Regions from separate parts of the Homo sapiens genome. Here region 2 is reported to be linked to region 1. Evidence: microRNA targets listed by miRTarBase, many of them from high-throughput screens and not tested one by one. Region 1 holds a microRNA gene; the other region holds the end of a gene's coding sequence. Distances are between the middles of the regions.
Evidence for each region. The annotated mature microRNA hsa-miR-302a-3p reads UAAGUGCUUCCAUGUUUUGGUGA and lies in region 1 at 1,500-1,522, opposite strand. An mRNA with a match to its seed (bases 2 to 7 or 8) in the 3' UTR can be bound and repressed. Matches are read on the target gene's strand: a 7mer-m8 pairs with bases 2 to 8, a 7mer-A1 pairs with bases 2 to 7 and ends in A, and an 8mer does both.

Region 1 (4,000 bases):
CGGGTCCCCAGTCAGAAACTGGCACAGAAACAATATAATTAAGTTAAAAATTTATTGACATTCTGATTGTGAAAAACTCTAATATTGCTTTTAATTTATAATAGGAGTTACTTCCCAAAAATGTTAATCACAGCTGGATTGAAAGAGTATTTGGGAAATGTGGCAATGTTGTTTATATAAGTATACCACATTATAAGTCTACTGGAGATCCAAAGGGATTTGCGTTTGTGGAATTTGAAACAAAAGAACAAGCAGCAAAAGCAATTGAGGTAAGTCCAGATCCTAAAAAAAAAAAAAGAAAGAAAAGAAAACAAGTATTAAAATAGTAACTTTTGCAATCATTTCAGTTTCTTAACAACCCACCAGAAGAAGCACCAAGAAAACCTGGCATATTTCCTAAAACAGTGAAAAATAAGCCCATTCCAGCCTTAAGAGTTGTGGGTGAGTATTTTTCAATATTTAAATAGGTGTAGTTGAAGTAAGATGAACTAATAATGATGGCACTTTTACAGAAGAGAAGAAAAAGAAAAAGAAGAAGAAAGGCCGAATGAAAAAGGAAGACAATATCCAAGCCAAAGAAGAAAACATGGACACAAGCAACACCAGCATCAGTAAAATGAAAAGATCCAGACCCACATCTGAGGGCTCTGACATTGAGTCCACTGAACCCCAAAAGCAGTGCTCAAAGAAAAAGAAAAAACGGGACAGAGTTGAAGCATCTAGCTTACCTGAAGTCAGAACAGGGAAGAGGAAGAGAAGCAGCTCTGAAGATGCAGAATCCCTAGCTCCCCGATCAAAAGTAAAGAAAATTATTCAGAAAGACATCATTAAGGAAGCATCAGAAGCTTCCAAGGAAAATAGAGGTAAAACTACAAGGTTTTAATTAGATAAAACTAATTAATTTTAATTAATTAGTTTTTAATTAATTAGGTTTTAATTGGCTTCTGTTTCACCCATTTCACAGCCCCATGTCTTAACGGAGAGCTTTTTTATTTATTTCAAGATATAGAAATCTCTACTGAAGAGGAAAAGGATACTGGAGATCTAAAAGATAGCTCTCTCTTGAAAACAAAAAGGAAACATAAGAAAAAACATAAAGAGAGACATAAAATGGGAGAAGAAGTTATACCATTAAGAGTGCTATCAAAGTAAGTCTGTGGTTTAAATTCTGTCATTGGCTTAACAATCCATCACCATTGCTAAAGTGCAATTCCAATTTATATTCAACAGAGTTGCATATTAGCAACAGTAATGGCCTGTAGCCAAGAACTGCACACAGTGTGGGCGTTAACGCAATTGCTGATTAGGTAGGAACCACCACACTCAAACATGGAAGCACTTATTTTTGTCATGTCACAGCAAGTGCCTCCATGTTAAAGTAGAGGGGGCCCCTTAACAGATGTAAAAATACAAAATAAAGCTTAAATATATGAGCTGCGGTCAATACAATAAAGTTATTTTCTAAAAAAATAATAAAAATGTAAAAGGAAGACTTACCATCACCAAAACATGGAAGCACTTACTTCTTTAGTTTCAAAGCAAGTACATCCACGTTTAAGTGGTGGGGAGCCCAGTCTTGGAAAAAGTTAGAATCCTTTAACCTGTAACAAGCTTAGTAACCTTAAAACACAATAACAAAAAAATTTTGTAACAAAAGGTGTGCTGGCTTGGAGACACCTCCACTGAAACATGGAAGCACTTACTTTTGTTTCACACAGCAGGTACCCCCATGTTAAAGCAAAGGGGATCCCTTCAAATGAGGTTAGCGTGTTCTATTTTGGAGAAGTAAATTGGATTCACTCCTACTAAAACATGGAAGCACTTACTTTTAAAGTCACAGAAAGCACTTCCATGTTAAAGTTGAAGGGAGCCCACCCAACATACAACTTCTTTGGACTTCAGAGTATTTAGAGCTGAGGAGAAAGAAAACAAAATGGCATAACTTTAGAAGAAAAAAATTTTTTTACCTTCCTGAACTAGTTCCCAAAGATTCGTGTTCTCCTCCAGAAGGGTAAAAGGCAGGGACTTCAGCCACTTCTATTTATACTATTCTTAACTCTTGAATTCCTTTTGCCTTTTTATCTCAGAGAATCATTACAAGGGCCTTTTGTTATTTTAATGTATCAGCTCTCAGGGAATGTATGATCCTGGGTGGGTCTGGATCCTTTTTTTTTTTTTTGAAGTATACAGATGTCAATGTTAACAGCTAAAACCATTACCACAAGATATCTTCCTCTTAAAAAAAAAAAAGAAAAAGAAAAAGAAAATCTCCTATCTGCTTGTTTGATGGCATAGATTAGGGTAACAATGAGTGCTCCCACTGAGCCGAGAAAGGCATTGTGTTTCTATCTGGAGGAACTCTGTTTGAAGAAGCATCTACATGTTAAATGTATGTAAATAAATAGATTGCTTCCACGGGGTGTTTTGTTCTACTTAGAAATTCTTTTTGATTCAAGTAAATACTAAGGAATGTTATCTCTCAAATTGGAAGCAGTTTAACAAATCTTTAATCTCGCCCTTTTCCCACAGAGATGACTGATTTAGTAAATGTTACTAGTTAAGGAATTAATGCTAAAATTTTACTTTTATAAATTAAAATACTTCAGACACTCAAAAATTTAATTGGCAATCTTAAAACATTTAATCTGAATATTGGGGGAAGAGGAACTCCCTTAGCTTATTTTGCTAAATGTCTTTAGAACCTAGGAAATATTTTGAATATGTGTTTAAAGAAACAGGAAAGTTGGTGGAGGAGTTGCTCCAAGTCATTGTGAATGTATATATTTAGATATTTCCCTATTTACTTTTTATATTTAGTCATCTGTTATCACCATTTCTTTCCTTGTAGGAGCGAATGGATGGATTTGAAAAAAGAGTATTTAGCGCTACAAAAAGCTAGCATGGCTTCTTTAAAAAAAACAATATCCCAAATAAAATCAGAGTCAGAAATGGAAACAGACAGTGGAGTACCTCAAAACACTGGAATGAAAAATGAAAAAAGTAAAGATCACTGATAGTTTTGACAACATTATAATGTACTTATATATGTAAATGCTATCTCTGAGTTGTTATAAGATAAATTTTAATTTTAAAAAACTTGATTATTCTATTTCATTATTAGAACAATTCTTGATTTGTTAAGTTATCCAGATGTGTTACTTACTCTTGATATAAGAATATTTAAAAGGCTCATTTAAAACAATTTTTTAAATAACCTGAGTTTTCTCTACAGTTTTCATCAAGCACATGAGTGCAGAGTTTGCAGACTGAGCAAGTTTGTAGGAATGAAGATTGTAGTTTCTCACCTGTTAATTTCATTCTGTAGTATGCACCACAAGCAGGAACAAGTTAAAGCAGAATTCCTATGAATTCAAAATTAGGATACATTTTAAATTCTCATTTCTTGTAAAAATAAATGTTCACGTTTGAATAATAATGTATTTAAAACACAGTATCCTTTAACTTTTTTTTAACTTTATTGAGTAAAAATTTACTGTTCCTTTGTTCAGGGAGAAGGGGCAAATTTAAAGGCTTTACGAATGCTCTTCTAGCAGTAACAATTTGCATGTAGAATAATAAAACTTTCTGAGTTTTATTCATGGTATTTTGAAATAAGCAGTATGACATATAACCTTTAATTGTTTACTTTAAAATTAAATACGTTTTAAATTATTTAAATCTGCCTCAGGAATTATTCTAAGGTAGTCCTCCTAAGTATTAAATTGTTGTTAAGTGTAAGAGATTTAGTCCTGGTCTTTTTCCTTTTCTAATCAGCAGCCAACAGGGAAGAGTGTCGCACCCAGGAGAAAGTTAATGCAACAGGACCACAGTTCGTGAGTGGAGTGATTGTGAAGATCATTAGCACAGAGCCTCTACCTGGCAGGAAACAAGTCCGGGTAATGATTTTGAGCCCCTAGGGTATTTGTTCCTTTCTTCTCTTATTATTTCCCTGTGTGAAAATGTTTTGAATATGGAAGATAAAACAAATCAAGTTAGAATT
Region 2 (4,543 bases), 64 Mb from region 1:
ACATAGCTAATAAAACTATGAGTTCCAAGTATGTCTGACTTTGGAGCTCTTTTAATCACTGTCCCATACTGCCTTTCTAGTGATGCTGACACTGAGCTTCTAATATCACATTCATCATTCTGCCTCTCAAAATAATAAGTAAATGATAAGGTTGGTTATCTGTGTGCTTGGAAAAGGTGAGACCATCTTTTCCTTTCTTTTATCTAGTAGCTATGTTAACAAAATGGGAAGTCATCTGGTGCCCAGTAAAACTTGGAAGTTGTGAAAATGCAGAGTGTGGGGAGGTTGTACTAGTACCTGTTTAGAGCTTAGGACTTGGTACGGCCTTCATGGGATCGTGATGCCACCTGAAGAGTAATTAATATATGTGTGAGATAGTATGGTACTATTTCATAAAGACATTTATCAAATTTTAATTACAAAATTGCTTTATTACAGATCCTTGCCAGCTCCTAAAACCTATGGTAGCATGAAAGATGACAGTTGGAAAGATGGCTGTTACTGACCAGCAAAGACAAGAATGCAGAAGTCCACGGCTTCATGGATACCCTTCACCAGGCTAAAAAACAACTTTTATATGCAGACTGTTCAGATAAGACTCTTGGGATTTATAAAATCCCAGCCCTCTCTGTCTTAATTAGCACAAACCGACAGAGATCATCAAACAGCACTTTAATGACATTTAACATCAGATGTGTTTGGTAATCATACAATCACTCTCCATAGAATCACTTTTAGTTTTGTTTAATAGAAACTAGGTTGATTTTTAAAAAATATTTGACAGAGGCCAATATCTGGGCAAATACCTAATGGATGCCAAAGAGAAATGCCCATTTGTAAATGAGAAAAATGCCCATTTGTGCACAAGAAAATGGTGAATTCAGGCTATCCAAAACTTCACATTCAACCTAATTTACTGTATAAATAGTATCAATAAATATTTGTGTTAATGAGAACTAATATTCTGACTAATTATCTAAAGTGTTTCACTAGTACACCAGGAAACTACAGATTGAGATTAGGGGGTGGGAGGAAAGAAACCTGGGCTAGAGATTAAAACATTCCTAAATTTAGCAGAATTTCAGAAATGATTTTTGCAGATTCATTAGAAAAGAAAAATTGTCATTTAATCTTAAGTTTTGGATGTAGCTCACATGTCACCACCACCAGATAGTGTTACAGCATGTATCCATCATGTTGCATTGACACATCAAACTTGTGTGTGTTTGTTTTGATTGCCAAAAGGGCTTAATATCAGTTGTACAATCTTTCTGAACTTTATAGTTCCTGGCTCAGGAAAGATGGCCTTTGCTATTGAAGCCAACTTCTTCACATGCTGTTATCTTTACAGAACTAAGAGATCTTGTTTCTATTAGCAGGTTTTCATGATAGGAAAGAACAAGTAGTGTGTGTCTTTATTCTTGATACAACACCACCTCGGTGCTTGCAACCTGGAACAAAACCATACCATGAGAGAGAGGGGGAAAAAAATCTATGCACTTAACCTACAAAATCTCTGGTGATGACAGTTGTATTGTTGCTATTACATGGCATAACGGTCTATTATGTGGTAGGAAAATATAGCCTGCTAAATCCTACTTAAGTTGATCCACTTTAAACTGAGTAACTGTATAAAACATCTATTGAAAATTCTTTTCCTTTTGACTTAGATTCTGCCTTACATCAATTTTTGCATTTTTGGTAAAAAAAAAACCCTACTACGTATGACTCTAACCTGATACTTGCTCTCTAATGGCTCTTAATATATCCTTGAAATCGGCTATTTCAATTTTATCAGACTTTTACCAGAGTAAAACTTGCTTCTGTAGCAGGCCTCTCATTTTTTATTATGAGGTCTGTTTTTAAATACTTAATTTGAACAGCTCTAAGATATTGTCACTTAGGTCATCTAAAAGCTTTTAGAGATTTGAACATAAGTTCATTTCCTGTTAATCAAAGACATTCCGTAAGTTGGCAAAAGAAATTGGGAGAGAGAAATAGAAGGCTTGATATTCTGGACAGCATTAAGGTTGATAGGTTGATGATAAAAACTTAAAACCAGGACCTCCATTCTGTCATGACTGACACCATGGTAGTCTGTCAGCTTGACCAGTGGAGAGTCATTCATTTAGCACAAGCAGCTGGAGATTTAAACTGCCAGTACTATGTATTTGGTGTATAATGCAAGGAAGAAACTTTATCCTTGAATTTGAGGGTGATGGGGTGGGTCAGGAAAGGATGGCGCCAGAATTCTACATGATAATGAACTAAAAAATGTTGCTTTTCAGAGGAAGATAAAGCATCTTCTTTTGGGAGGGGGGTATCTCATGTCTAAGTAAGTAAAAGAAAGAAGTAGCTACTGTCTCTTTTAAAAACCACGTACAAAACAGAACAAGTCTCAGTTTTCAGTGCAACATTTCAAAAAATATATATGCTGCAATCTAATAATTAAAAGGAATTTTACCTATTATGAAACATATTACATTTTTTAAGTTAGATAATCAGTTTCAAAAGGAGTATTCAGGTTATTTAACTTTGTTTTTAAATGGCTGCATCAGAAAAAAATGTCTATTTTTTTTTATTAAAATATTTCATCACTTGTTAAAACATATTTTTGATCTGAGTTTGGTAAAGTATTATTTTACCTGCTGTTGTACTACCACAGACTGTTGACTTTTAGTTTCTTAAAGAGAAAAATTGCCTTTTTACTAGAAAGCCTTTGTATATTGCAATTTTTCTGTTTGGGAAAATCTAAGGATTTACTGTGGTTAGTCTTACAGAAGAAATGTGGATTTGATAAACTAGTGCCTATGATTTTAACTTATGTTTGATATATAGTAGTAAGGGTTTTATGAATGTTGATTATTTTGTGCCAACAGCCCAGAATTGTCACTTATATGTAAGCAGAAAACAATGAGCTCTGCTTCCAAAGTTATTTAATTTTCTCAGTGTTTGAATGTTATTTTTTGTAAGTGTGTTAATAAAAGTGTAAAGAATTGGAAAAAATATAAATATTCTTAACTCAAGCATTTGCTGGATCATTTTTCTACAAAACTTGTTTGTACAATATAAAACACTCTCTGAAGAGTTGACTTTTTTTCAGTTTCGTATCCTGGAAATCACATTTTGTAAAACTGGGGACCATTCATAATTGTCAGATACTTTTTAAAATTATCTCAATACATCACTTTTATAAAAAAAAAAAGTTTTTTTGAAAGAAAATTAGATACATATGTGGCCCCAGATGTTTGTATAACTCTAGAATGATCTAGACTATGTATGTTTAAATTAACTTTTTATTGAATGTACAGGTGTCCATTTTTGACGTTAAGCATGGTCCTTTAAGGTCACATGACGTTTGATTTGCAAACATTTCTATAGCCGAACTTGTATATGTGGTTGCCTCCTTAATAAACAGCCTGACCATAATGTTTATTATTAAATTTATATTCTTTAAGTGTTTAATTAATCTCTGGATATGGTAAGATTCCTTTTTTCCTCTCAGTTGCCTACACTTGGTTTTAATAAATTACTCAGTTGAGTTTTTCTTTAACCACAGAAACCCAAATCATATTGCCCTTTCAGATTTAGTCTTCATGGGGTTGGATTATGTCTTATATTTTCTCTGTCAGAGTTATTTCATATATGGATTTTACTTGAAGGAAATTTACAGTTTACTCTAAATTGATTTGTTCTTGGAACTTTTTTACCTGCTGTGAATTGATACCTAGTTATAAAAAGCTAGCATTTGCCTAGATCATAACTATGTATGGTATCTAGTTAGAAAAAAACAAGCAAAAAGCTATTATGAGTTTCCAAGAGGGACAATTAATGCATTTTCATACCAAATGCGAATATTTAGGTGATCACGTGCATCTTTTCTTGTATGGATGGAAAAATCAAGAATTGTACACTGTTTAATGAGTTCTCCATATTCCTTTAGGAGATATTTGCTTTGCAATTACATGTTACAATTAGAATAATTACAATTAAAATAATATTACATGTTACAATTAGATTAATAGTGATGAGAGGGAAAAAAGACACCCTTCTGTTTTTTTCTCTCAAGCCAGTCTAAAAACTTGAAGAGCCATTTAAAATTAAATGTCACTATACTTGTATTATAAATCAATACATAAGTTTAAACCTGTTATATACTCAGTGCAACAGAAAAACCCATATGGAGGTTCAACCACTGATGTATTTTGAATGATCCTAAATATAAGTCTTGGGTGGCTAAATGGCCCTCTGCTTACCAGTCTGAAAATGAAACCGATTATACTCATCGGCCTTATTTACTGTAATACAAACTGGTTAAAACTATGTTAACTGAATGCTAGTTTGAAACAAATTATCTACATTAAGTCATCTTAATGTTTTCTCTTTAAAAGAAATAAAAAAATCTGTTTCTTCTGATTTCGAAAGTAATAGAAACTCTGCTGTAGAACATAAACTAAAAATATTAAAAAGTATAAAGGTAAAAAATGATAGTTGTCTGCAATCCCATAATCCGGAAATATTGAAGTACTGTCCGTAACATGGT

Region 2: the mRNA of SLAIN2 is a reported target of hsa-miR-302a-3p. Seed matches in the 3' UTR shown: 7mer-m8 at 667-673 and 7mer-A1 at 1,497-1,503.

What each region holds. Positions count from the first base shown.
Region 1 is chr4:112,646,687-112,650,686 of GRCh38, forward strand. It overlaps MIR302A (microRNA 302a), which reads right to left and starts at 1,565; the gene lies at 1,497-1,565. It overlaps LARP7 (La ribonucleoprotein 7, transcriptional regulator), which reads left to right. Exons shown (of 13, transcript NM_016648.4): 5 at 105-269; 6 at 348-441; 7 at 513-863; 8 at 1,004-1,148; 9 at 2,849-3,000; 10 at 3,775-3,896. MIR302CHG (miR-302/367 cluster host gene) reads right to left here and starts at 3,365. Exons shown (of 3, transcript NR_146092.1): 1 at 3,306-3,365; 2 at 1,827-1,913; 3 at 34-282. MIR367 (microRNA 367) reads right to left here and starts at 1,255; the gene lies at 1,188-1,255. It also overlaps MIR302D, MIR302C and MIR302B. RefSeq lists an enhancer at 2,185-2,907.
Region 2 is chr4:48,421,573-48,426,115 of GRCh38, forward strand. SLAIN2 (SLAIN motif family member 2) reads left to right here. Exons shown (of 8, transcript NM_020846.2): 8 at 439-4,543. The coding sequence ends at 505. Among named protein-coding and RNA genes, the nearest start is that of SLC10A4, 59 kb to the right of the region's middle.